Homo sapiens: one gene and its partners. The protein of the gene in region 1 purifies or fractionates together with the protein of each later gene. This does not show direct contact. Each region holds a gene or a part of one and is shown on either strand. Other genes may lie near its edges.

Evidence for each region.
Region 2: the proteins of DBN1 (region 1) and CTTN purify together in Homo sapiens (affinity purification with mass spectrometry; 2 studies listed by BioGRID and IntAct, with this or other methods). This does not show direct contact.
Region 3: the proteins of DBN1 (region 1) and HOMER2 purify together in Homo sapiens (co-immunoprecipitation; 3 studies listed by BioGRID and IntAct, with this or other methods). This does not show direct contact.
Region 4: the proteins of DBN1 (region 1) and SPTBN1 purify together in Homo sapiens (affinity purification with mass spectrometry; 2 studies listed by BioGRID and IntAct, with this or other methods). This does not show direct contact.
Region 5: the proteins of DBN1 (region 1) and SVIL purify together in Homo sapiens (co-immunoprecipitation; 2 studies listed by BioGRID and IntAct, with this or other methods). This does not show direct contact.
Region 6: the proteins of DBN1 (region 1) and JUP purify together in Homo sapiens (affinity purification with mass spectrometry; 2 studies listed by BioGRID and IntAct, with this or other methods). This does not show direct contact.
Region 7: the proteins of DBN1 (region 1) and TPM1 purify together in Homo sapiens (affinity purification with mass spectrometry; 2 studies listed by BioGRID, with this or other methods). This does not show direct contact.

The regions. Positions count from the first base shown.
Region 1 is NC_000005.10:177,463,555-177,467,577, reverse strand, and holds part of DBN1 (drebrin), read left to right. Parts: coding exon 1-97; intron 98-245; coding exon 246-323; intron 324-515; coding exon 516-667; intron 668-742; coding exon 743-806; intron 807-4,023. UniProt on the Homo sapiens protein: Actin cytoskeleton-organizing protein that plays a role in the formation of cell projections. Required for actin polymerization at immunological synapses (IS) and for the recruitment of the chemokine receptor CXCR4 to IS.
Region 2 is NC_000011.10:70,401,468-70,405,490, forward strand, and holds part of CTTN (src substrate cortactin), read left to right. Parts: intron 1-3,797; 5' UTR 3,798-3,894; intron 3,895-4,023.
Region 3 is NC_000015.10:82,854,985-82,859,007, forward strand, and holds part of HOMER2 (homer protein homolog 2), read right to left. Parts: intron 1-4,023. UniProt on the Homo sapiens protein: Postsynaptic density scaffolding protein. Binds and cross-links cytoplasmic regions of GRM1, GRM5, ITPR1, DNM3, RYR1, RYR2, SHANK1 and SHANK3.
Region 4 is NC_000002.12:54,644,304-54,648,326, reverse strand, and holds part of SPTBN1 (spectrin beta chain, non-erythrocytic 1), read right to left. Parts: intron 4,005-4,023; coding exon 3,741-4,004; intron 3,099-3,740; coding exon 2,874-3,098; intron 2,400-2,873; coding exon 2,310-2,399; intron 2,134-2,309; coding exon 1,852-2,133; intron 1,197-1,851; coding exon 1,066-1,196; intron 1-1,065. UniProt on the Homo sapiens protein: Fodrin, which seems to be involved in secretion, interacts with calmodulin in a calcium-dependent manner and is thus candidate for the calcium-dependent movement of the cytoskeleton at the membrane.
Region 5 is NC_000010.11:29,628,186-29,632,208, reverse strand, and holds part of SVIL (supervillin), read left to right. Parts: intron 1-4,023.
Region 6 is NC_000017.11:41,772,823-41,776,845, reverse strand, and holds part of JUP (junction plakoglobin), read left to right. Parts: intron 1-3,919; exon of another isoform or gene 3,920-4,023. UniProt on the Homo sapiens protein: Common junctional plaque protein. The membrane-associated plaques are architectural elements in an important strategic position to influence the arrangement and function of both the cytoskeleton and the cells within the tissue.
Region 7 is NC_000015.10:63,052,651-63,056,673, forward strand, and holds part of TPM1 (tropomyosin alpha-1 chain), read left to right. Parts: intron 1-4,023. UniProt on the Homo sapiens protein: Binds to actin filaments in muscle and non-muscle cells. Plays a central role, in association with the troponin complex, in the calcium dependent regulation of vertebrate striated muscle contraction.

The DNA of each region.
Region 1 (4,023 bases):
TGCCATCGGGCAGCGGCTCTCTAACGGGCTGGCGCGACTCTCCAGCCCTGTGCTGCACCGACTGCGGCTGCGAGAGGATGAGAACGCAGAGCCCGTGGTTAGTGTGTGTTTGGCACCCGTGGGCTCTGCCTGCGTGGCCTGGTGCCCGAGTCTGGCCTGCCCGGTCCCTCTTAGCTCTCACCCTTTAGGTGTCGGGGGTTCCTGGGGCATTCAGCCTGCTTATGCTGGGTCCTTCGACACTGCAGGGCACCACCTACCAGAAGACGGATGCAGCTGTGGAAATGAAGCGGATTAACCGAGAGCAGTTCTGGGAGCAGGCCAAGGTATGGAACCCTGAGCCCGGCCTGGCTGAGCCACCCCTCATGGACCCCATGGGGCAGGTCTGAGTCCCTCACTGCAGTGGCATGGCCCATGCCACGTGCCCCGCCCCCAGCGCTGGGTTAGGGAGGGGCTGGAGGGGCAGGGTCCAGGCGCCTAGGCTCGGGGCCTACCCTTGTTCGCACCGGGGCTTGCAGAAGGAAGAAGAGCTGCGGAAGGAGGAGGAGCGGAAGAAGGCCCTGGATGAGAGGCTCAGGTTCGAGCAGGAGCGGATGGAGCAGGAGCGGCAGGAGCAAGAGGAGCGCGAGCGGCGCTACCGGGAGCGGGAGCAGCAGATCGAGGAGCACAGGTGAGCCTGCCCGCCCGGAGCGCTCCAGGGGCCCCCGGGCGCACCCTGACGGGTGCTGGCTGCTTATCGTTCCAGGAGGAAACAGCAGACTTTAGAAGCGGAAGAGGCCAAGAGGCGGTTGAAGGAGCAGTCTATCTTTGTAAGTTCTTTGCCAAGGCTCCCGGTCTCTGGGTCAGGGAAGTGAGAATGGTCCCTGTGTTCCTGGGCCTTGTGGGGAGATCAGTGGCTCAGGGACAGTGGTGGCTGTTCTGGGGAGCTGCATGGGCACAGGGTGCCATGGAGCATGAGGCCTGGCACCTCATCACGTGGGGCTCTGGCCTCTGGCCGTGGAAAAAGACTACTTTGGAGAAGCTTGTGCTCTAGATTGGAAGAGAAACTCCATCTAGACCCAGACCCTCACTGACCAGGCTCCCCCTCCCCTGCCCTGGGGTTTCTCGGCGATTAGACACTGTTCTGCACTCTGAGGGGCCACAGGAGTGAGGCAGGCGGCATGGGTGAGCCTGGGCCAGTGCTGAGCATCTGCAGGCAGTGTGTACCATCTCCTTGGGAGCAGCATCTCCCTGGGAGCAGCCCCTTTGTTCCAGGGGTACTGTCTGAATCTCCACACATTGGGAATGGCCCGTAGGTCCTGTGGATTGGTCCCTGAGAATCACAGCAGAGTCACATCTCCATGCTTTGAATTTAGTATTTTGGAAATAGCTAATGTCATTCAGGACTGAGCATGGCTCAGTTCAGGAAGGGAGGTGGGTTGATACTCATCTGGATTGGGACTGTAATGGGCAGATGCATGGCTGTGGGGACTCAAACGGGCTCCGGAGTCACCCACAGGAGGCTGAGAGAGAGGAGGCAAGACAGTCCTGCAGGCAGCAGCATTAAGTCACTCCAGTCACATCTGCCCTTGGATGGGGTGGGGATGATGTGTGGCTGGTAAGCTCCATCCTCAGTCATTCATTCAACACACACCTGCCACCTGCCACATAAAGAACATGGTGGAGAACGAGCTGGGTAAGATCTTTTTTTCATAAGTTGATTCATGTATTTTTTTTTTTTTTTTTTGAGATGGAGTCTCACTCTGTCGCCCAGGGTAGAATGCAATGGCGTGATCTTGGCTCACTGCAACCTCCATCTCCCAGGTTCAAGCGATTCTCCCGCCTCAGCCTCCTGAGTAGCTGGGATTACAGGCGCACACCATCATGCCTAGCTAATTTTTGTGTTTTTGTAGAGACTGGGTTTCACCATGTTGGCCAGGATGGTCTTGAACTCCTGACCTCGGTTGATCTGCCCGCCTCGGCCTCCCAAAGTGCTGGGATTATAGACGTGAGCCACCGCGCCTGGCCACATGTATGTAACTGTGGCAAAATACATAAAATGTACCATTTCAGTCATTTTAAAATCTGCATTTCATTAAGCGGCATTAAATTCATTCACATTGTAGGATAACCACCACCACCATCCATTAAACACAAATTCTGCCCTTCCCCACTCGCCAGCTCCTGGCAACGACCATTCCACTTTCTGTCTCTATGAAGTTGACTACTCTGGAGACTGCCTATCAGTGGAATCGCACGGTGTTTGTCCTTTTGCGTGTGGCTTATTTCACTTAGCATGATGTCCTTAAGATTCATCCATGTTGTAGCATGCATCAGAATTTCCTTCTTTTTGAAGGCTGAATCATATTCCATTGTATGGATATACCACATTTTATTTATCCTTTCAGAGTGAGGTTTTTTAAAATTTTTTTATTTTTTAAATTTTTTTGAGACGGAATCTCGCTCTGTCGCCCAGGCCGGAGTGCAGTGGCGCCATCTCAGCTCACTGCCAGCTCCGCCTCCCAGGTTCACACCATTCTCCTGCCTCAGCCTCCAAGTAGCTGGGACTACAGGTGCCCGCCACCACGTCCGGCTAATTTTTTGTATTTTTAGTAGAGACGGGGTTTCACCATGTTAGCCAGGGTGGTCTCGATCTCCTGACCTCATGATCTGCCCACCTCAGCCACCCAAAGTGCTGGGATTACAGGCGTGAGCCACTGCACCCGGCCTGCCTCCCAGGTTTAAGTGATTTTCCTGCCTCAGCCTCCCAAGTAGCTGGGATTACAGGCGCCCACCACCACGCCTGGCTAATTTTTGTATTTTTAGTAGAGATGGGGTTTCACCATGTTGGCCAAGCTGATCTTGAACTCCTGACCTCAGGTGATCCACCCGCCGGCCTCACAAAGTGCCGGGATTACAGGCATGAGCCACCGCACCCAGCAGATAAAGTTTATTATTTATTTATTTATTTATTTATTTATTTATTTATTTATTTATTGTCTTTTTAGTAGAGATGGGGTTTCACCATGTTGGCCAGGATGGTCTCGATCTCTTAACCTCATGATCTGCCCTCCTCGGCCTCCCAAAGTGCTGGAATTACAGGTGTGAGCCACCTCACCCAGCCAAGTTTATTTATTTATTTATTTTTATTTTTTTGAGACAGAGTCTTGCTCTGTCGCCCAGGCTGGAGTGCAATGGCACAATCTCAGCTCACTGCAACCTCTGCCTCCTGGGTTCAAGCGATTCTCTTGCCTCAGCCTCCTGAGTAGCTGGGATTACAGGCGTGCACCACCATGCCCAGCTAATTTTTGTATTTTTAGTAGAGACAGGGTTTCACCGTGTTGGTCAGGCTGGTCTCGAACTCCTGACCTCGTGATCCACCTGTCTCGGCCTCCCAAAGTCCTGGAATTACAGGCGTGAGCCACCGCACCCTGCCTGATAAAGTTTATTTATTTATTTATTTATTTTTATTTATTTATCTTTTTTAAGATGAAGTCTCACTCTTGTCCCCCAGGCTAGAGTGCAATGGCGCCATCTCAGCTCACTGCAACCTCTGCCTCCTGGGTTCAAGCGATTCTCCTGCCTCAGCCTCCCAAGTAGCTGGGATTACAGGTGCACGGCTCCATGCCCGGCTAATGTTTGTATTTTTAGTAGAGACAGGGTTTCACCATGTTGGCCAGGCTGGTCTCAAACTCCTGACCTCAGGTGATCCTCCCACCTCGGCCTCCCAAAGTGCACTGCACCCAGCCCTGATAAAGTTTATTTTTTTGCTAACATTTCAAACATACACACATGCAGGTAGACAGAATAGTGTTGTGAACCCCCTGAGCTGATTTATTTTCACCAGTTATCAACATTTCAGGTAAAGTCTGAAGGAGCTTACCATTATTTTATAGTCCCATCTGGCCCTTCAAGTATAGTTCACGTGAGAGTGACAGTGGACATTCTAGCAGGTCAGTGTGGTACCCTTTCAATTTCAGGTCCTCTAAGGAAGGGAATATGCGAGAGACTTTGGGATTTAGCACTGTGAAATGCTTTCTCTTGGCT
Region 2 (4,023 bases), on another chromosome or scaffold:
TCCATCTCAAAAGAAAAAAGAAAAAGAAAAATTAGCTGGGTGTAGTGACAGGTGCCTGTAGTCCCAGCTACTCAGGAGGGTGAGGCAGGAGAATCGCTTGAACCCAGGAGGCAGAGGTTGCGGTGAGCTGAGATCACACCATTGCACTCCAGCCTGGGCAACAGAGTGAGACTTCGTCTCAAACAAAAAAAAACAAAAAAAAAAAGAGAGAGAAAAATCAGCTTGGTGTGGTGGTGCATTCCTGTAGTCCTAGCTACTCGGGAGGCTGAGGTGGGAGGATCACCTGAACCTGGGACACAGAGGTTGCAGTGAGCTGAGATTGTGCCTCTGCACTCTAGCCTGGGCCACAGTGCAAGACCCTGTCTCAGAAAAAAAAAAGAAAAAAAAGGCTGGTGGGGGGCTTTTAGGCGCGGTGGTTCGTGCCTGTAATCCCAGCACTTTGAGAGGCTGAGGCTGGCAAATCACTTGAGGCCAGGAGTTGGAGATCAGCCTGGACCAACATAATGAAACCCCATCTCTACTAAAAATACAAAAAATTAGCTGGGTGTGATGGCGCATGCCTGTAATCCCAGCTACTCGGGAAGCTGAGGCAGGAAAATCACTTGAACCTGGGAGACAGAGGTTGCAGTGAGCCGAGATCGCGCTGTTGCACTCCAACCTAGGCAACAGAGCAAGACTGTCTGAAAAAGAAAAAAAAAGTTATTGTGTAGAGGAATTTTTCACTCTGTCTAGACAGCAAGATTACTTCACGTTTGTGCAATCTTGATTTGTACACTGACGTTTGCAAGGAAGGTTTAATGTTGAGGATGGACAGAGTCATTATCTTCTTTTGAACCGTATTGTAACAGCTTTATCGAGATATAATTCACATACCATACAATACGCCTGTGTAGTGTGTACTCTCCACTGGTTTTTAGTATCTTCATGCAGTTGTACAACTGTCACCACAGTCAATTTCAGAATAATTTTATCACCTCAAAAAGAAGCCCTTGTACCTTTTAGCCATGACCTCCCTATCCTCACCACCACCATCCGCCCAGCCCTGGGCAACCAGCAATGTATCTTTTGTCTCTGTAGATTTGTGAACTCCAGACATTTCCTAGAAATTGAATCGTATAATATGTGGTCTTTTGTGCGTGGTTTTCCTTTGCGCAATGGATTTGAGGTCCCTCCACGCTGTAGCAGGTGTCACTGCTGGATCCTCTTTGTGGCAGAATAAAATGCCTTTGTGTTAGGTAGACCACATGTTATGTATCTATCAGTTGATGGACATTTGGAGTGTTTCTGTTTTTTGGCTGCTATGAATAGTGCTGTTCTGAACACTCACGCACAAGTTTTTGTGTGCTTATACTTTATTTCTCTTGGGCATAGACCTAGGAGTGGAGTTGCTGAGTCATACAGTACCTGAGTTTAACCTTCTGAGGAACTGCCAGACCTTTTCCATTTAACATCCCTGTCAGCAGTCTATGAGGCTTCCAGTTTTTCAACACTGTTGCTGAGATTTGTCATTGGCTGTTTTATTTTAGTCATCCTAGTGGGTATGAGGTGGGTTCTCATTGCAGTTTTGATTTGCATTTCCTTGGTGGTTAATGACATTGAACAAACTTTTCCTGAGCTTGTTGGCCATTTGTATATCTCCTCTGAAGAAATGTCTCTTCAGATCCTTCAATCATTTTTAAATGGGGTTATTCGTCCTTTTTATTGAATTATAAGAGTTCCTTTTTTTTTTTTTTTTTTTTTGAGATGGAGTCTCACTCTGTCGCCAGGCTGCAGTATAGTGGCGCAATCTCGGCTCACTACAGCCTCTGTCTCCCGGGTTCAAGCAGTTCTCCTGCTTCAGCCTCCCAAGTAGCTGGGACTACAGGCATGCGTCACCACGCCCTGTTAATTTTTGTATTTTTCGTAGAGACGGGGTTTCACCATGTTGGCCAGGATGGTCTCGATCTCTTGACCTAGTAATCCGCCCGCCTCGGCCTCCGAAAGTGCTGGGATTACAGGCGTGAGCCACCTCACCTGGCCAAGAGTTCTTTATATATTCTGGATCTACAGTTCAAAATACTTTTCTCTCAGGATCGTCTTGTCACCTTCTTGATGAAGCACAAAATTTTTAATTTTGTACAATTTATTTTTTTCCTCTAGTGTTTTGGTGTCATATCTAAGAAACTATTGCCAAATTCAAAGTCACAAAAATTTACACCCTTTTAGGATTTTAGTTCATTTTTGAGTTAATTTTTCTGTATGGTTTTGAGGTAGGGCTCTAGAGGCTTTTTATCTTTGGATCCACAAAACAATCAAACTTATTTCCTATTGGTTATTTTTGTGATTGTTTTTTAAATTTCCAATATTGAGAGTATAAAATTGTGGATCTGAGCCTATCCTTAGCTGCTCATGAGTAGATTTTTATTATTTACTTTATGATTGATTTATGTATGAGACAGGGTCTCTCTCTGTCTCCCAGGCTGGGGTGCAGTGGTGTGATCATGGCTCACTGCAACCTTGAGCTCCTGGGCTCAAGCAGTTCCCCCACCTCAGCCTCCTGAGTAGCTGGGACTACAGGTATACACGACCATGCCTGGCTAAATTTTTAGGCAGAGTTGTATAGATGCTTGCCGATTACACTAATAACTGCAGTAACCAGAATGTAGCAAGCAATCTGTAGAAGTTAGGATTGCCGAAGGGAACTGGGGAGAGAGATGGAGCAAACAGTTGGGTCAGAAACCAGATAGGAAATTAATTAATTACCAGGAGGGCCAGCCAGGCACCATCCCCTAGTTCCTAATGCGTGAGAAACCACTCTGCCTGTGACCGGCTTGTTCCTAGGGACAAGGGGATTTCATTCGTCCATGTGTGTTGTCTAGCAGTATGGTGTCCAGTTGAGGCTGATGTGTGGTCCTAGGGAAGGGGTCGTGTGCTTGGCCACCCTCTGGGGAGCTGGAGTCTTGCTCCCTGCGCGGTAACCGTGTACGTTCATTAGGAATGCAGCCCGCCTCCTCCTCGGCTCTCCAGCTGCCAGTCTCATGTCTTGATAGACAGTCACCATACTGGTTTTTCCTCCCGGCCATATCATGATCCTCTCAAGGAGTGTTTTTCTTATATTATTGTTTTAAAAAGCTCACAGTAACAATTTTATTTTATAATGTCATTAATTAGAATGAATAAAAAGTGAAAATCTCTAAGAATTATGGCAAACAGTAAATGCATACTAGCAATTAAGGCAATAATTTCTGTTTGCATTCATAAGAAACATCATGTAGGCCGGGCGCCATGCCTCACACCTGTAATCCCAGCACTTTGGGAGGCCAAGGCAGGCGGATCACCTGAGGTCGGGAGTTTGAGACCAGCCTGACCAACATGGAGAAAACCCGTCTGTACTAAAAATAGAAAATTAGCTGGGCGTGGTGGCGCCTGCCTGTAATCCCAGCTACTTGGGAGGCTGAGGCAGGAGAATCACTTGAACCCGGGAGGTGGAGTTTGCGGTAAGCCGCGATTGTGCCATTGCACTCCAGCCTGTGCAACAAGAGTGAAACTCCATCTCAAAAAAAACAAAACAAAAAAGACAAAAAGTCATCATGTAGTTAGAAATCTTTTAAAACTTATTTCTTTAGTTTCTCTCTGTTGAACTTTTTTATTAGTAAAATGCAAGTCTTCCCATCCTCCTCTCAGATTTCATTACAAAACCTTGTTACGTTTGGGAAGATTTCTGAAGTTTTCTAAAAAGATCTCCACACAGAAGGGTTTGCCCAGGGAGCTGCTCAACATACATCCTTCTCAGCTTTTTACCCTTAATCTTTTTACAGACGGAATCAGTCCCCAATGCCTGGAAATTCCTCATTGGATTACTGTGTTTTAAACAGAATTTCGTGAACAGCCTTTTATCTCCAAGCGGAAAGAAAGGTACTTGTGCATTGTGAACATCCTAACATTCTTTTCCTGTGGATGGTAAGGGCAAAAATCCCTTTAACAGGAAACGGGGGAGGTTGCTGTTTCTGTGGATTTACTGGGAGAGAGATGATAATATTCTGG
Region 3 (4,023 bases), on another chromosome or scaffold:
TCTGGTGTGAACATGTCATCCTGTGGTCTATCTTCTTAAAGAATCACCTTAGAAGAGAACACAATTCTTGGGCCGGACGCAGTGGCTCATGCCTGTAATCCTAACACTTTGGGAGGCCGAGGCGGGCGGATCACTAGGTCAAGAAATCGAGACCATCCTGGCCAACATGGTGAAAACCTGTCTCTACTAAAAATACAAAAAAATGGTGGCGGGCGCCTGCAGTCTCAGCTACTCAGGAGGCTGAGGCAGAAGAATCGCTTGAACCCAGGAGGTGGAGGTTGCAGTGAGCCGAGATCACGCCACTGCACTCCGGCCTGGCGACAGAGCGAGACTCCATCTCCAAAAAAAAAAAAAAAAAAAAAAAAGAAAACACAATTCTTCACGAATGAAGAGACAAAGCTAGGCATGAGGGCTGCAGGGCGGGCAAGGCCCATCCCATCCTCCTTACTGGCCGCCCTGCTTCCTCCTGAAAGGAGTTTCATGGGTGGACCGGGTGACCTTCAAGAATCGTATGAAAGCCATGGACGGACCTCCAGGACGCTGGGTTTAAACAAGCAAGAAGCCAACAGCTTGGCTCCGGGGAATAATGGTCCCACTGTAACCTGTGCCTTCTCAGAGCCTTTGAAGGAATCCAGATCTGAGGGCCTAGGGCTTGGAGACAGGAGAGAGTGACCAGGAATCAGTGCCCTGGGGGCACAACAGGGGTCTGGAGGGAGCTCTGGCTGGCCCATATCCCCCCGGGGTGTGAGGAGACCAGGAATCTGAGGGACACCTCTGCTGTCACCACAAAGGCCTCATGTTTCATCTGATTCTACATGCTTGGTGAGGAGGACGTTTAAAACAAAACCAAACTGGAATCAGGTTCCCCTCATTGTTCTCTTCTGACCCTCCTTCAATTTCCTTGCTAGGAGCCCACACATCTGTGGCGCTGAATGTGACTGGAGGTGACAGGGCAGAGCTGCACGTGACAAGCCCATGGGGAGGTTTCCGCCTGGCTAAGTCCTCTTTCTAAAGGCTCTTCCTAATTTTTTTAAGTAAATACAATGGTGTGTCTGAATAGATCTGTGTTATCTTTTATCCCACAACCTCAAGGACCTCGAGGACTTGGAAAATATGTACTTTCACTTTCAAACACCACTGACTGAAGAAATAATAAAATGTTATTATCTGGTGAATTCTAGAGTTGATGACTGACAATTTAAGCTAATTTAGGGAAATAGCTTCCTGCCCATTCTTGTAGTACCTCACTTGCTCATTAAACTCAGATTTGAAAACATTTATTTTTAGGGGTGAAACATTTTCACCCAGGCAGCCCACTGTGACTTAAACAACCAAAAACAGCTCTCAGTTGGGTGTGGTGGCTCACACCTATAATCCCAGCACTTTGGGAGGCCAAGAAGGGAGGATAACTTGATAAGCCCAGGAGTTTGGGACCAGCCTGGGCAACATAGCAAGACCTCATCTCTACAAAAATAAAAATAAAAATCAGCCAGGTGTGGTAGCGTGCACCTGTGGTCCCAGCTACTTGGGAGGCTGAGGCGGGGGGATCAGTCGAGCCCAGGAGTTCAAGGCTGTAGTAAGCTATGATGACACCACTGCACTACAGCTGGGATCACAGAGACTCTGCCTCAAAAAACAAATAAATAAATAAATAAATAAAGCTCTCACAATTGTCTGATGAGTAAGAAAAGAGACTGGTCACAGTTCTGTCCTTTGAAGTACCTGACAAAGAGTCACAGTCCAAAGGCAGGGGGTTGGATCTAAGGGTCACATGTGCTTTCTGGAATTCCTAGGTCAGATCACAGCCGGGCCAGCTGAGTTGGAGAGCTGGGGGCCAACTCTGTGGCGGCTCTGGCTGTGGAAGGGGACAGGCTGCCTCTGGTAGGCTCCTGAAGAGACTGTGAGTGCAGCCTTGAGTGGAACACGGGCCATGTGAGGTGATGGAAGGTTTACTAGCCATGTGACCTTGGGCAAGGAGTCACTTTGTCACTTGGAATTCAGTTTCCTCATCTGTAAAATGGGGGGAAGTTCAAAATGACAGCTTCTCTTATGGACCCAATGCTTGAGACCTCCCTAAATTCATACGTTGAAACCCTACCCCTAATGTGATGGTCTTAGGAGGCGGGGGGGCGGGTGTTGAGAGGTAACTAGGATTAGGTGAGGGCGTGAGGATGAAATCTTTATGAATGGGATCCAGGTCTTTACAAGAGTCCTCAGAGAGCTCACCTCCTCTCCCCACCTGTGAAGACACAGGGAGAAGACTGTGGTCTATGAACCAGGAAGCAGGCCCTCACCAGACACCAAATCTGCCAGTGCCTTAATCTTGGACTTTCTAGCCTCCAGAACTGTGAGAAGTAAAGGTTTGTTGTTTAAGCCACCCAGTTTGTGGTATTTTGTTATAGCAGCCTGAGCTAAGACAGCTTCTAAGATGATACAGCTTTTTTTTTTTTTTTTTTTTTTTTTTGAGACAGAGTCTTGCTCTGTCGACCCGGCTGGAGTGCAGTGGCGTGATCTTGGCTCACTGCAACCTCCGCCTCCCGGGTTCAAGTAATTCTCCTGCCTCAGCCTCCTGAGTAGCTGGGATTACAGGCATGTATCACCGTGCCCGGCCAATTTTTGTATTTTTAGTAGAGATGGGGTTTCACCGTGTTGCCCAGGCTGGTCTCGAACTCCTGACCTCAAGTGATCCAGCCACCTCGGCCTCCCAAAGCATTGGGATTACAGGCATGTGCCACCACGCCCAGCCAATACAGATCTTAAATGGGCAACTCTGAGGAGGGGGGCTTCTCGGTCTGAGGGAGACTGGGGAAAGCCTGCTGAACCCCTACCCCTGGCCAGCAGAAAGCCCTGAGTGTGCTCATGGGACCGCCCTAAACCACGAAGCTCAGCCCAGCCTGTGGGGAATGCTCCACATTCTCAAGATACAAAATCATAAGCACCGCTCATGCAGTAAATTAAAATCTTACTGATATCATTATGGGGATTGTGTTACATTTATAGATCAATTTAGGAGAAACTGATACTTTTAAAATATCAAGGCTTTTTGCCACTTCCCAACAGAATGGCTATTTATTAAACAATTATTTTATAAACCTTGAAATCATTTTAAAGTTTGCTTCACATAGATCTTGTATATTTAAGTTTATTTCTATGTAGTTTATGGTTCTAGTTCATACTGTAAAGGATCTCTTCTTCAAATATATATTCCACATGACTTTTTTGTATATAGGTGACTGAGTTTTGTGTGATTTCATATTTTAATAGTTTATGTTTTCACATGCGTTTCTCAGATGTTCAAAATTCTTTTTTTTTTCTTTTTTTTGAGACAAGAGTCTCACTCTGTCATCCAAGCTGGAGTGTGGTGGTGCAATCTCAGCTCACTGCAGCCTCTGCCACCTCCCAGGCTCAAGCAATCCTCCCAACTGAGCCACCAGAGTAGCTGGGACTACAGGTAAACACCACCATAGCTGGCTAGTTTTTAAAATATTTTTTCTAGAGACAGGATTTCATCATGTTACCCAGGCTGGTCTCAAACTCCTAGGCTCAAGTGATCCGCCTGCCTTGGCCTTCCAAAATGTTGGGATTACAGGCAGGAGCCACCATGCTTGGCCAAGAGTCAATGTTATAGATAAATAAATGATAAATTTGCCTCCTCAAAAACAAAACAAAGCACAAGCACAGGGGTGCATTCACACACACACACACACCCTCTCTCCACACATGTACACTCAATCACACACACTCTGACACTACCACACTCATGCACATTTGCCCTCTCTCCACACATTTACATACTCACAATATCTCTCTCTCACACACACACACTCTCTATTTCCCACACACACACAAATGGATGCTGATGTGGTTGGCCAGAGCAGGGCCATGAAGCCAGCTGGCCTTCCTTTCACCAGGAGACAAGAGTGGATGCTCTAAGCAGGTCCCAGTTTTCTCTCCCAATTTCCTGAAACCCTGTCCAGCAAGAAAGGCTTCTAGGGAAGTGCTGAAGGTGGAGAAAATAGAATC
Region 4 (4,023 bases), on another chromosome or scaffold:
ACAAAGGACATGTTGGTGCCTATCCCTGGAGACTAGGAAGGCCACTTTCCTGGGAATCCTGATCATGAACATCTTAAGAACCTCCTACACCAACAGAGCCACTGACCTCATCTCCCCTAACCTGCCCTGGTTAAATGCACAAGGCCAATTCCTTTCCAAGTCATAAAAGGCATTTACACAAAAATCCTAAAATGACTGCTTTGGAAGTTAATACAGGGGCCTGATGAGTACCACACACTCACCTCTTCTTTTTCCTCGAAGGTGTTCTAATCACTTGATATCGAAGAGTTAGGAGGTGTTATCACTTTGTTCTTCCTGGGAGCCCCTTCATTTTACAGGTCTATGCATTCTTGTCTAATGCTCCTCTTAAAACTAGTAATTACTTTACTAAACTGGATGACTTTTTCAACCCAAGTGTAAGTGCTATGACTATCTGTATCCACCATGCAAGTCAACCTGTACTTCTGATCATTTTTATTTTTTTGAGACAAGGTCTCACTCTGTCACCCAGGCTGGAGTGCAGCAGTGTGAACATGGTTCACTGTAGACTCAAACTCCTGGACTCAAACCATCCTCCCAACCTCAGCCTCTTGAATAGCTGAGTAGTACAGACGTGTGCCACCACACCCAGCTGATTTTTTGTATTTTTTGTAGAGATGAGGTTTCGCCACATTGCCGAGATTGGTCTTTGGCCCCCTGGGCTCAAGCAATCCTCCCACCTTGGCTTGGTAAAGTGCTGGGATTACAAGTGTAAGCCACTTTACGTTGACTGCCCAGCCTAGTCAACCTGTACTTTTGACTCACGACACCAATATTCTTTCAGGAGAGCCTTGGCCAACGGGAGATATTTAACCCACAAGAGCAATTTCCTAATATAACAGTTCACCCATCCTAATCATGATAGGATGTTTTAAATGATGGGTCTGTTTTAAAAATGCTTCTCAAAGATTTGCCTTACCAGCAAGTCATGATGAATGCTGACATTTTCTTTTGGTGGGGGTTAGCAAGAGACCCTAACTGAGAGGAATCGAGAGCCGGGTCTCACACTCATGAAGCAGCGCTCACCTTTCAGGATGGCTGTCGGCCACCAGGGCCCGGCTGGTCTTGGAGAGCTGATGCACGGTCTCTGCATAGTCCTCCACAGCTTGTTCTAAGATCTGGTGCTTCTTCAACATGGAGACAGCACTCTGCTCATCCTGCAAAGACAGGAGAACATCACAACCATAGCGGTCCCCTCTGGCCCTACCCCTTAAGGAGTGACAGACCAGCTGCTCAGCAGGGTAGGAGGAAGGATCAGTAGAAAGAAAAACTCCAGAGGTGCAGTACGGACAGTGGAACACAGAAGTGTTCCAAGAGCTTCCATATGGACTGGACCACAGAAGCCTGTGCAGAAGATAAACACAAGGAGAACGCAGAATGAGCAGGGCCCCTCTCAGAGAAAAGCTTGGGCAGACCAAGTGTGCCTGGTTCGCTGGAATTCCTCAAGGTCCCTCAAGTATGTAAATGGCAGCATTCCTGGAACCTTGCAATACTTTCAAATTGTCTCCAAGCCATCCTGTATTTTGTAAAGTTTAGGGAACCTATAAATAGACAGCAGGAAGGACTCTGGCATATTTCAAAGATGAAAGGATGAACCTGTTCTTAATGGCACACTAGGATTCAGATAAGAAAATGCTGCACCAAAGGGAAACCAGCAGCTGGATTTCAGACACCTTCATGCACATGGTGTCCCCTTAACACTCAAAGGCTACAAGGGAAGTTTTTATACAGACAGAGCCGCCAGCAGAAAGTGTGCCCAGGGTTTGAATCTGAGGCTCTCCTGGGACAGGGATGCTTCCCGCCTCCTCTCACCTTGGCCTTCTCCTCTGACATCATGTACAGCTCCTGCTCGCTCATCCAGGCTTCGGCCTCAGCAGCGTCAAAGTAGTACTGCTGGGCCCTGTGCGCCTCCTCCAGCCGCCTGTGGCGTTTCTCTGTCTCCTCAATGAGGAGACCCCACAGCTGCTTCAGGTCGGCAAGCCTCTGTCTGATGGCCTCAGCGCTGAGGCTGCTGCTGTCAGTGACGATGTTTTGGCTCCTCTCAAAGATGTCGTCAATGCGAGGCTGGTGCCCCTGGATTTCTTTCTGGAGGGTCTGGAGGGAGCGGAAAATACACACAAAGGCTTGCTAAATGGCAGCCGTCTGCTGCTTATGTCAAGCTGTTAGGGCCAGAAAGAAATAGCAAGGCTTCAAAGCTCTCTGCCATTCCCAGTCTCATAATTTAGAGCAATTATTTATCAGACAGAACTAGCTCGAGCAGAAAGGCTTACCTGATTTTTCTTTATTAACAGCTGCACAGTCTGGAGGTTGTGGCCATGATCCGTGGAAGTTGCCAAAGGCATCCTCTCTCCAACCCACAACTGGGAAGAATTTTAAATAAGTGGTCAGATCCACTCAGAGGAACAAATATACGACACAAACGAGCAGTGAGGGGCAGTGAGGGACAGCAAGGGTGAGCTTCAGAGAGTGCTCAGCCCCCTCGGGAGGGCTGTCTGGGGAAGCACGCCCTTGTTCTCCGAGACAGGGCTAGGGAGAGTCTTTCCAACTCTACCTCATCCTCAAGGTCAAACTCACTGTGAGTCCTCATTACTTTTAAAAAGTCTGTTTTAGGGCCATTAAAATCCTACAGTATCCCTAGATAACGTGAGAGGACCAATGGAGTTACATTTAGGGTGAAAAGGGAAAGAAACTTTAGACCATCCAGAGCGTGGACTTTGGCAGCTCAGCTTGCCAACGTGGCCCAAGGTGAGGATGACTGAGAAGTGAGAATGTGGGCTTTAGCACAGGCAAGGGGGCTCGTGGAAAAGCCATGTGTGCAGTAGGGGTCGACTCACGATCTCGTCCTCCACATCCCTGTTGAACTGATGGATCTCTTTGGAGGCCAGCAGGTTATGCTTCCTCTCGTTCAAGGGCTCCAGCAACTCCATGAACTTGGTCTGCACGGTGAGGCGCTTGCTGTCTACCTCGTCGGTGCTCTTCCCTTCCTGACTCAGGGCCTGGGCTTGGCTTTGGAGCTCTTCGATCTCCTTCTTCCGCACTTCCATCTGATTCTCCAGCATCTGAGGGCAGAGAAGCAGCCTCAGCGCTCAGCACAGACTATCTTTTGCAGTGACTGGCTCTAAGCAGAACTGCTGGGCCTGGGACTTGGCCACACCGCAAAGCCAGCCATGGGAGCCACTCAAACATTTTGCCACTGACTTGCTTTTCAACATCAATGGAACTGTTTTCAAGTAAATCTGAGGTAAATTCATTTGCCCTTAAAGCCCTCTACGGTGATATAATATAAACAGTTATTTTTATTACCTATAAAGTGCCTTGAACAACTCAGATAACTGTCACAAATCACGATGTTAAACAACAAAGTATGAGAATATTTCTTTCGTGTAAAATGCAGAATTGAATGAGATGAACATTTATTTAACTGTTAAACGGTGATAATACCCATTAACTAAGAAAATTATCAATCCCATACACAGACAGCCAACACCCAATACTCCTAATACTGTGTCTTTCTAGTTTGGACAAGTGTCTTTCTATTCTGGAAATGTTCTACGATGCTGTTAGAGCAAGTAATATTTTGGGTTAAAAATGCCTTCCCATGGAAGGTGGACTCCTGATAATGCAGTGGGTGAGAAAAGACTCTAAGGACTATGGCTGTAAAACAGAAATACACCCAAGTCCATGATGGCTTGTCCACTTGCCTGTTGCTTTTTCAGCAGGATATTGACACTGGTCAGGTCTTTGCCATAGTCATCAGACTGAATCTGACTCTCCAGGCCGTGCAGCCATTTGTCTAGATCTGCACAGCTCTGGGTGAAAAGTTCGGCCTTGTTTGCATCAAAGAGCCGCTGGGCCTTTGTCTGGGTAGTGGATTCAAGGACTTCCCACATTTTATGTAAACCAGTGAGTTTCTCCTTCACCACAGCTTCCGTCTCAGGCTTTTCTGAAATGAGCTGCATTCCTTCCTGGAAAACAAAACCAACA
Region 5 (4,023 bases), on another chromosome or scaffold:
GAGTTATTTAATATTCTACAGTTGAGGAATTGCATCCAAAGGAAAGGGCCCTTGGGATTTTTATAAGGATGTCTGGTGAGCTCCAGCATGCAGGGCTCTCGGGCTACATGGAGCGTTATGGAGAGTAAGCTGCTAGGAGCCTTGTGATTGTTAGGGTACAAAGGCAGCCTTGGAATCATCTCCTGAATCTGCAGCTGCCTGGGATTTTAGGACACTCATTGCAATTTTATGTTAAAGCGCTGATCTCAGGGTGCCTTGCTGTGACTGGGAGTATCCGTAGGTCTAGAACTTTCCAGCAGTTCTGGGCTTCATTGATTTGTGACTCAACTAGGAATCTTCTGGTCACCCTTGACTCCTCTCCCTTTAGGTCCCCGAGGCCTCTGCCCCACCACCTCCTCTTAAGCCTCGCCATCTTTTTTATTTTTTATTTTTTTGAGATGGAGTCTCACTCTGTCAGCCAAGCTGGAGTGCAATGGCACAATCTCGGCTCACTGCAATCCCTGCCTCCCGGGTTCAAGGGATTCTCCTGCCACAGCCTCCTGAGTAGCTGGGATTACAGGTGTCCGCCACCACGCCCGGCTAATTCTTGTATATTTAGTAAAGATGGGGTTTCACCATGTTGGTCAGGCTGGTCTCGAAATCCTGACCTCATGATCTGCCCACCTCGGCCTCCCAAAGTGCTGGGATTACAGGTGTCCGCCACCACGCCCGGCTAATTCTTGTATATTTAGTAAAGATGGGGTTTCACCATGTTGGTCAGGCTGGTCTCGAAATCCTGACCTCATGATCTGCCCACCTCGGCCTCCCAAAGTGCTGGGATTACAGGCATGAGCCACCGCGCCTGGCCTCGCCTCGCCATCTCTTACCTGGGCTACTGCTTTGCCCTTAATGGATCCCTTGGCCCTCGGTTTCTCCTCCGTCTGGTCTAGCCACAGAATGACCTTCCTAAACAAAGATCTCATCTTGCACTCGGCCAGGGCCAAACCCTCATCGTTCCTCACTGCTTACATGCAAAAGCCTGGGCTCTGTAGCCTCCCCTTCAGGGTCTTTCATGCCCCTGGAGTTCTGTTGGCAAGTCTCCCCAAAATGTTGTCTTCTCTTGCCTGCCAGGGAAGCAATATCAAAGGAGATGTGCCAGAAGCTTCCTCTGACATGCCTCTGGCCTCCTGGGCCTCGACTCCAGCCTGTACTCTAGGGCTGCAGTCACTAGGTCCTGGTGGCCCTTTCCTTGGCAGCAGGGTACCCAGTGAGGTGCTTGGGTCTCACTTCTCTTACCACCCCCAGGGTCTAGCCCAGTGGGCAATCCAGAAATGTGAGTTGTTTGAACGGATTGAATTGTAACGACTTGTGGGTTCTTCATATCGAAATTTGGCTGTGATCCATCCAGTACTTTTGCCCTCATCCTATATTACTCACAGTAGAAGCTGGTGTTCTGTGTTATAAGTTCTCCTTTTTTTTCCTTCATCTATGACAATGCAAGCAGAAACGTTCGTGTTGCGGTAACAAGTCCGATGGGGTTTCTGTATATGGGGTTTCTGTACACGTGCTTTTGCCAACCGGGAAATTAAGGTGTGCCGCATGAAGTCAGTCACTTCATTATTGGAACTTTGCCTAAAATGAAGAAACTCATCTAGTGGTGCAATTTGACCTAAGTGTTTTACCCATACAGTCAACTTCAACTTGGGTCACACATCTCAGGAGCAGTTTGCACTGTTGATCTCAGGGGCTCTTTAGTATTGGTTCAGAGAGATCTCTGTCCCTCTTAGAGACACTCCCTATTGTAGGAGGTTTTGAAAGAGGCATTCTTTTTCCTCCTAATGTGCTTGTCCCCTTCTGAAAGTTGATCCTTTAATCCCAAACAAGTTTATAACCTATGTCTAACTGGTTTTTGTGTAAATATAGTAAAAGAAATAGTTTCCATATTTGCTTTGGGATCATTGGTCTGCCCATGTCACAGCCCTGGGTACATTCATTTCAGTCCATATTTTTGGGGCACTTTCCCTGTGCAGAGCTCCGGGTGGGTCCTGTGGGATGCAGAAGCCTATAGCGTATTCCCTCTCATTGGCAGCCTCTTTCCCAGAGTGTCTCGGACAGGGATGTAATGGAGCTATTTTACCAGTCAGAGTAGAAGGGATGAACAATAATAACATGCCATCCATTATTACTGTGTGCCAGACTTAATGCCACACTCTTTACCTCTACAATATATCACTTAATTATTTTTATTTTTTGAGACAGTCTTGCCTGGTCACCCAGGTTGGAATGCAATGGCATGACCATGGTTCACTGCAGCCTCGAACTCCTGGGCTCAAGCATTCCTCCTTCCTCAGCCTCCCGAGTAGCTGGGACTATAGGCAATCACTACTATGCCCAGCTAATTAAAAAAAAAAATTCTAGAGGCAGGGGTCTCACTATGTTGCTCAGGCTGGTCTTGAGCTCCTGGCCTCAAGCTATCCTCCCATTAAGGCCTCTCAAGGCACTGGGATTACAGGTGTGAGCCACCACGCCCGGACTCTAATTTTTACAGTAGCCCCCAAGAAATATTAGTGCAATTGTCTTCATTCTACTGAGGAAAAAACTGAGGGTTAGAAATGCTTGCCCAAGCTTGGGCACATACCATGTGCCCAAATCCAGCTGGATTTGAACCCAGATCTAGTTGACTTCAGTGCCTGTATTCATAACCGCTGCTTTAGCCAGTGCAGCCCAAACTTTAATAGGAATCACCTGCAGTCTTGTTACTGCAGCGTCTGATTCAGTAGGTCTGCACTGGACTTAGAGATTCAACAAACAGGATCCAGGTGATGCTAATTCCTGTCTGAGGACCTGCTTTGAGCCGCCTTAGGTTAATTCTTTGCCACGTGCCTGAGATGGAAGCAACCAGCTGGGGTGCGGGACTCGAAGGGGGCTTCCGAGGAGGAGAAGGAGTCTTTCAAGGCTCCTCTGTTCCTCTAGGCTTTTCATGCCACCCCTTCCCGCTCTCTACCTACACCATTCTCTCCCGTTTGTCTTATTTTCCACTCTGCTCTTCTCCTGGCTTCTCCTTGTGTTGAAAACATCCTCAGGTTTCATCCATTCTAAATAAAGCTCCCCTTGACCTCAAGCGATCACTTCTTTCTTTCCTGCCCACTCACTCCTCAGCACTGATCAGGAGCTCTTCTGTCTTCTCCTCTTGGACACCTTTCAAGACCTCCTGGTTACTTTGATGTCCCCGCAGCCTCCCTGGGATGGAACCCCTCTCCGTGAGAATCCCATCTCAGGTCTAGTGAGGGTGATGGGGCTCTGACCTCCATACTCAGCATCCACACCCTGCTGTGATCTTGAGGTCTCCTGGCGGCCTTATTTTAAAAATCATTTTCTGTCTCTTTGCTTGCTCAGCTTTCCTTCTTAAGGTCCATTTAAGATTTTTTAAAAAATCCTGGTGTTCCTCTTTATAAGGTGAATTGTTCAACATGTCCATTTCAGGTGGAATGCATTCATTTGGCTTTTAGAACTGATTTTCTGTTTGTAAGTAGAAATTAACTCCCAATTAGCTGTGTGAGAATTTGTATCCTCTGTATCTGCTATCAATAGAAAAGAACAATTCGGTTCTGGGCGAAGACCCAAAGGGCTTTTTATTAATAATGCACCTACGATTTGTGAACTGTGTTTAGGTTCATCAGAGGCCTCTCGTTTCTTTCTGGACTTTCAATTACGTTCTGAGCATGGAAAGTTGGCAAATAACTTAGGCTTGGATGGATAGATACAGTCATTGAATAGAAAAACCATATTGATATTTTTAGGTTTTTAAGATCTCACATACTTTAAATATTTCAAAATTTTAAGTAAATACTCTTTCATACATTCTGAAACATTATATCTAATTTATCTCAGCCAAAAATTTAAGACATATACATGTTGCAGTTGCACACCTGTTACTCCAAAACAAACAAACCGCTCCAGCCAAAACCCAAATGGGAAAGCACTTGATTTTCAGTAGCTTAAAATATGTTGAATTAAGAGGTAGGTTATGAAAGTGAAAATGAC
Region 6 (4,023 bases), on another chromosome or scaffold:
TTTAGTAGAGATGGGGTTTCACTATGTTGGCCAGGCTGGTCTCAAACTCCTGACCTTGTGATCCACCCACCTTGGCCTCCCAATATGCTGGGATTACAGGCGTGAGCCACCGCGCCTGGCCCCCTCACCTTTTTGTTTTGAGACACGGTCTCGCTCTGTTGCCTAGGCTGGAGTGGCATGATCCTGGCTCACTGCAGCCTCAATCACCTGGGCTCAAGTGATGCTTCAGCTTCCAGAGTAGCTGGGACTGCAGGTGCATGCCACCATGCCCGGCTAATTTCTTTTTATTTTTTGTAGAGACAGGGTCTTACTATGTTGCCCAGGCTGGTTTCGAACTCCTGGGCTCAAACGACCCTCCCACCTCCGCCTTCCAAAATGCTGGGATTATAGGCACGAGCCACTGCGCCAGCTGGCTTCCGCCTCCTCTGCCATCTCTTTGTTCTTCTAGCATGAGAATGCATGCCTTTCCTGTGGACAGAGGGCTTCCAGAGTCACAGTGACAAAAGAAGTCACTTGATCATCTCCATTTTACAGATGAGAAAATGAGGCTTAAGGAAATTGAGCCCCTCTCCTCACTCAGAATCCTGTGCTCACCCTGTCGCTGTCTGAGCCTGGGGACCTGTGTCTGCACAGGGTGCTGGCCTCTAGCCTAAGGAACCTCTGGGGGACCCAGCCCTGCCCTGCTCCGCCCTGCTCCTCTGTTCCCAAATGCAATGCTTCTGAGTCTGCTTCCAGCACGGCCTCTGGGGTAACCCACTCCTGTCCTTATTTCCAGGTGTCTTGGCACTTGGTGCCCTGCAACCCAGCCTAGATGTGCCCATTGCTGACTGTCCTTGGCAGGTGCCGGCTGGGGAAGGAGCCTGGTGTAGCTCTGGTGGGGCTATTTTTAATGTCAGGGCTGGGCCACACTCTGCCAGGTCAGTCTTGGATTTAGGGTGCCCGGTGCCAGCCCTCTGGGTTGGCTGCGCAGAGGAGGAGGCAGGAAAGAAGGGTAGGGGTGCACCCAGTCTAGCCTTATTACTTGCTCACACTTACCTGGTGTGGGTCCCATGGGGAAGGGTCCTCTGCACCCCCTCTCCAGGGCCCGTCTTCCTTCTTCCTGTCCTTGGGCTGTCCCTACAGTCTCTGATCTGGCTTCTTCCTCCCGTGCTGCTAACAATAGAGCACGCTCTAAACAAAGGCCCCCCATTCAACTCAGAAACCCGCCCTGTCTCTGTCCCTGCCCGTCTCTGGCTGGGATGAGTGGGCAGGGCCTGCGTCTGTCTCTCTCGCTTCCACCCTGGCTCTGTCCAGGGGCATTGCAGGAGGTCTGACTCCAGGTCCAGGGTGGAGAGGGACAAGACTGAACTGGGTGTGGCCCCCTCCACCCTGGGAACTGTAAAACCAGCACTTTTGTTTCTTGTGAGAGAAGTTCCTTTGTTCTCCTGGGCAGTAGGTAAGGAGAAGGGTGGGGCTGGTTGACAGTCCTGCCTGAGGTCTGACTTCCAGCCTTCCTGTTGCAGGAATAGCTCCCGTGACCCCTTCCTCAGGAGGAGTTCTGGAGTGTGTCCTCTCTCTGAACTGGTTCCCAACTCTGACGTTGCCCACCCCCAGCCTTCTTCTGTCTGTTGTGGGAATCCTGTTTTTTTATTTCTAGAATCTTAGACATCAACATTCCTTTGAGATCCAGGGACACAAGGACACCCAGCAAGTTTGTGGCAGAGCTGGGACTAGAACCTGGGACTCTTTTTTTTTTTTTTTGAGACAGGGTCTTGCTCTGTTGTCAGCCAGGCTGAAGTGCAGTGGCGCAGTCTCGGCTCACTGCAACATGCACCTCCCTGGTTTAAGCAATTCTCCCGCCCCAGCCTCCCGAGTAGCTGGGATTACAGGTGCACACCACCATGCCTGGCTAATTTTTGTACTTTTTTAGTAGAGACAGGATTTCACCATGTTGACCAGGATGGTCTTGAACTCCTGACCTCGTGATCTGCCCGCCTTGGCCTCCCAAAGTGCTGGGATTACAGGTGTGAGCCACCGCACCCGAACCTGGGACACTTGATTTGCAGCCGAGTGCTCTGCTTCCATCTGCAAGCACCTTGGTCCCCTCCTCCCCTTGGCAAGAGGGCTCAGCTCCACCCAGGCTTGTCTAGTGGACTGGATGCTGTTCCTACCACAAGTGCTGCCATTTTCTCAGTGTGCAGGCACAGCTTCTTCACCTAGAAATTGGGAATAAAGCCAGGCACAGTGGCCCAAGCCTATAATCCCAGCACTTTGGGAGGCTGAGGTGGGCGGATCACCTGAGGTCAGGAGTTCAAGACCAGCCTGGCCAACATGGGGAAACCCGGTCTTTACTAAAAATACAAAAATTAGCCAGGCGTGGTGGTGCACACCTGTAGTCCCAGCTACTTCAGAGGTTGAGGCAGGAGAATCACTGGAACCCAGGAGGTGGAGGTTGCAGTGAGCCAAGATCATGCCACTGCACTCCAACTTGGGCGACAGAGAGAGATTCTGTCTCAAAAAAAAGAAAGAAAGAAAGAAATTGGAAATTATAAAACATCTGCCAGGGTTGCTTTGAGGGAAGAATGAGATTCACATAATAATAAAGGCCACTGGGCGTCCACCCCCCCACCCCCCCATGGCATCCTGTGGCTTCTGTCTCTCCCTGGGTAGCTGTCTAGCCCTCAGCAGTCTCCTGGCGGTTGACCTGGGCTGGTGGGGGTGGTGAGGGGCCTGCTGAGGAAGTTCCTCAGCTTGACTGTGGTGGTCCCTTTAGATGTGAGGCCGGCAAGGGGTGACCCTTGTTTGGAGTGAGGCCCGCTTCCCTCTCCCTTAGCTGAGAAGCCCCAGGGTTAGGCACTGTCTATGCAGGAGGGCCCTCTGGCTGGGATGCAGTGTGTTTGTTGACCAGAGCTGCAGATGTCCAGCAGTGTCCAGATGTCGTTCAGCCTTGAGCCCAGCAGAGCGGCATTCAGTGGGTTATTGCTACCGTGTTTACTTGTACACTTGCACCTTCCTTCTCTCCTGGGGGCAGCTTCTCTTCCAAACTCTCCTCTGCTCTCTCTTGGGACTTGCCCTTGGGGCAGGGAAATGGTTGGGGAAGGCGGCACAGCACGAGGAGCTCAGGATTTTAGTAGGGTTTTCCCATGTCTGCCTTCTCCGAGCACCCCGCCCCCCGCCCCCCACCATTGCCCCTGTTTCCTGCCAGTGGCCATTCCCCTCTGTTGCTGGGGAAGGGGTGTGGGGAAGGGGTGCGTGTGGAAAGGGGGCTGGTTGGGGGGGCTCCTTCTGAAATAGCTACACTTTCGAATGCCTGGGAAGCAGCTGTGCACATCTGGCGGCCCGAGCCTGTCGTCTGGGGTCTGCCGTCTGAGGTGGCGGGACTGCTTCTGTTTAATCAGCCTGAAACTCTGAGTCACTAGGGATTGCGGGAGGAGAGGAAGGAGGCAGCTGGGAGCTGGCCTGGCCCCTGCCTCTGCCTGTTCCGGGTGTGCTCACGGCTGCCTGCCATAAAAGGCTGGGAGACCTGCAGGACCATTCGTCATCCTCCTGGAGGGCCAGGGCGGCACTGGGGCAGTCACAGGGAAGACTTATCCTTGGTGATCTTTGTTCCTGGGGTGGGGCCAGGTTGCCCCAGCCACCCCACCCTCACCTGGTCCCCATCACAGTGAGACAACCCGGGTGCTGCCTGGCTTCATGGGTGGACCAGCCTGAGTTCTGCTTACTCACTGAGGCTGCGCCGGGATGTGCAAAGACTACAGACCTTGGTGCCCTCACACCTGGTCCCAGTCCCAGCTCTGCCATTTCTAACCTCAGTTTCTGCATCTGTACGCGGGGGACCAGTGCATGGGCTTTGAAACCCGCCCATGAGCATGACGGTGTCTGTGAAAGGTCTGGCTCGTAGTAGGCCCTCATGGGATCACGGCGTCCATTCTCCCCGCAGCCTCTGACCTCTGCAGGTCAGTTCCCAGGACAGTGGAGCCAAACACAGACCAAGCGGGAAGTTCACCTCCCTGGTACAAAGTTCGGCCCTGCTACTCATTAACC
Region 7 (4,023 bases), on another chromosome or scaffold:
ATAACAGATGGTCATGTGTCTATGGGCTTGTACCGGCAGAGGCAACAGCAGGTCCTTAAGACTCCCCAGGTGCCATGATGAAAAGAACCTTAGAAAATATTGAAATAAGCTCAAAACTTAAAAAAAAAAATACCAGAAATAAAAGCTAGTAAAGGTGAGAGGTGTGGGGCTTTTGGAACATAGAGCATAATAAATCAGAATAAAAAGTAAAAATAAGAAAGAGAAAAAAGTGGCCCTGATTAAATTATAAAATTAAGCATATCTTGAATTCTAACGAGCCAAACAAAAATTCTACTAGGCCAGTATAATAGGGCCTGCAGAGCCTGTCATGGGTTCAGGGTTTTCCCATAAAGATAGGTGTACCTCAGATACTACTCCTAGGTCCTGGCTTTAACCTCAAAGCCCCTCTGCCTGTCCTGCTCTGAAACCTCTGGGGCAGTAGGCATTGACTTCTGGGCTAGGGAGTAAATGTTCCGTGTCCTTATGTGAGCTTCCTATTACCCATTAGCATTGTTTTATGAAGTTTTCAATTTTATATCCTGCCTCATTTCAAAAAGATTGTGATAATCACTTTAGCAGATGATTTGCATTGCAGCAACTGTTCTCCCAGTCCTGGTTAGGATCTGTGCCTGAGGCCTTTTGTGGGGAGTTGGGGTGGGGGCCGGAGAACATCTCAATCTGATCTCAGGAGAGATAAAGACACAGGAGTGAGAACTGCCAGTTCCAAGGTTTCCGTGATGTTCCGGGAAGCCAGGAGAAGTGACATAGTGGAGAGCCGGCATGCTGGGAGCCTAGTGACTTGGATCTTAATCCTGTCTCACACTGATGGCTGTATGGCCTCCACATACTTCTGTGCCCAGGGTCAGAGTTCCCTCCTGCCGCCTGTTTCTAGTCAAGAGCTAGAAGAATAGCCAGCTTCTTTGGGTGGTGGCAAAGGGGATTGTTTATTTATAGTACAGATTCCTGCCCTCCCCCTTTGACCTCCTGAATCAGAATCTCTAGGGACACGGCCTGGAAGTTTGATTTTTTTTTTTTTTTTTTTGTTTTTGAGACAAGAGTCTTGCTCTGTCGCCCAGGCTGGAGTGCAGTGGCATGATCTCGGCTCACTGCAGTCTCTGCCTCCCGGGTTCAAGCAATTCTCCTGCCTCAGCCTCCTGAGTAGCTGGGATTACAGGCATGTGCCACCATGCCTGGCTAATTTTTGTGTTTTTTGTAGAGACGGGGTTTCACCATGTTGGTCAGGCTGGTCTCGAACTCCTGACCTCATGATTGCCCGCCTCGGCCTCCCAAAGTGCTGGGATTACAGGCGTGAGCCACAGCGCCCAGCTGAAAGTTTTTTTTTTAATGCTCATCTCTGAGTTGATTCTGACACTCAGCCACTTGTGGGAATTGCTGATCTGGACAATGCCTAGGGATCCTTCTAGCTAAAAAATTGAGACCCTATTTTTTGGATTTACAGGGCCTCCTCAGGAAGGGGCAGCCACTCTCAGGTCTGCTGTGTGTGCCCTACCATTCCTCCCACTATATCACAAACTGGCACCTAGAAACTGGTCTCCATGCCCAGTCGTTGCTGGGGCACCCTGTATGAAGCCCTGCTGGCTGGTATTCCTGTAGGACATATTCTCTGATGTCCAGGAGTCTGAGGTTCTACAGAATGCCCCTGGGGAAACAAGAGTGGCATTTAGACAACAGCATTCTGTAAACACAGTGCCAAGAGCTAAGGGAAAGAATGGGGGTGGGGGTGATCGGAGGGAAGACACGGATGGATTGGTAGGGGCCCTTTGGGTAGGAAGATCTCATGTGCAAGGCTGGAATGAACATGAGGTGCTGTTTCCTTCCTTTCTGGTGACTCGGCTGTGTGGGGAGCTGGGGATAGAGACCTGTCACCCAGAGGGTTCTTTCCCCAAAGCATAAACAGTCGTCTTTCTGTGAGTACAAAGTCCTTGAGGTTCAGGCCCAGATCTAAAGCAGAGCAGAGAACTTGGAACTTGGTAGCTACAAAAAAGTTTTGAAAATCTTGCTGGCATTTCTCTAATAGGCCATAGCCTCTGTAACAAGGATATTTGCCATCATATTGAAAATGATAAGAAAGGGGGAAAGAAAAGAAAGTGTACAGTGCTTTTGAGTACATAACCTAGACACTCTATGGAGGCTTTTTGTTGTTGTAGGGCTTTTGGTTTGTGTGCTTGGTTTTTTTGTGTGGCTTTAAATTTTGTTTTGTTTTGTTTGCCCTTTGTTTTTGCTTCCGCTTTGAGTCTCCCCCCCACCCTCAAAAGGAATAGAATTTTACTGGAAAATGAAAATATAGAAAAGTGAAGAAATCTTACCTGACCCAAAAGTATATCCTTAATATATACATCCTTCCAGTAATAGTAATAAAAAAAAAAAGCCTAATGGTTTTTAAAAGACACTTCCCTATAATTGAGAGATTTGTTATCCTATTACCCTCACCCTTCAATACACACACACACCAGAAACAACAGTCATCTGCCAGTAATTCCTAGCTGGGTCCATTTACCAGCTGTGCACTGATAATGATTTACTTTGTAGGCAGTACAGTTGTAAATGCTCTTCCTCTGATTTATTTCACATTTGCCCTGCTCCCTGCCTCCATCAACCAATTACTACATTTTTGTCAAGATAAAAGTGTATTTACATGTTTTTATAGAGTCCTTCACCGTGGTTGGAGATGCCCTACTCACCTCTCTTCCCAGATAAAACTTGGCATTTAAAATCTTACAAATCTAGGTGAGCAAAGAGCTGAAGGTTCTCAGATTCCTTTGATTAAAGACTATGACCACAGTTTCTAACTACATTTGCATTTCCAACTCTGTATTGTGGATCCATAAGCTGAGAACGTTGCTTTTATTAAAATTAGGTTGGTTTTACTCATCTTACTGAGCCCATACTCTGTGCAGAGAACTGTGAGTTCTCTGGATGTGAGCAGCTTACAGTTCAATGACAAAGACAGGGCTGTGTGTAGAGAAATTTGTTATCCTATTACCATGGGTCCCTAAGTGTGTATTGTAATTTCTAGAAAACTCCTAAGTGTTCTGAAAACCCCACCACCCCTTAGTGAACATACATTCAAAGTGGATGAGGATATTTTACCTGATTAGTAAATTCCATCTCCCACTTCCATGCACAATATTTAAACAGCCACCAGTGCAAGTGTGTATAATGGACCATCATAGTCTTATAAGTGTTCTGAGGCTCATAGCAACAATTTCTTATGACAGGAAAAAAATCATTGCCTCTCAAAGAAACCAACATTTTATTTCAGTGACAGATACCAAGTAAAAACAGTACTTGTATTATTTTTCTTTTTAGGAGTTTGATACTTTTCTTGTATTAACCTTGACTTCAAAGAAAAATCATAGGCTTACATCAAAAACACTTGGGAAATTTGTCTTGGCTCTGTTCCAATGAGGCCAGTTATTCTAAAAGGGGTTACTGGATTGTGTTGGGCCTTCATGTGGTGTGTATTTTAGAACCACTGAATTTTAAACTATTTAAGTTCCTTTGTAAGGATCCTATGATAAAGTGGCTTGAAGGAAAGAGTTGAGTGAAACTCTTGAGTCCGATTTCTGGCTGTACTGCTATTGTCTTACATGGCTGAGCCTGGGTAAGTCTTGTCTCAGTTCACACTTCAGGCCCCCAGTGAGTGAGGTGGCCGTGATGACGCTCTTGTTTAACAGGCAAGTAAAGCCAGGGTGTTGAACTCTACGGAAGTGGGCCGGGCGCAGTGGCTCACGCCTGTAATCCCAGCACTTTGAGAGGCCAAGGCAGGTGGATAAGGAGGTCAGGAGATTGAGACCATCCTGGCTAACACGGTGAAACCCCGTCTCTACTAAAAATACAAAAAAATTAGCCGGGCGTTGTGGCGGGCGCCTGTAGTCCCAACTACTCGGGAGGCTGAGGCAGGAGAATGGCGTGAATCCAGGAGGCGGAGTTTGCAGTGAGCTGAGATCGTGCCACTGCACCCCAGCCTGGGTGATAGAGCGAGACCCTGTCTCAAAAACA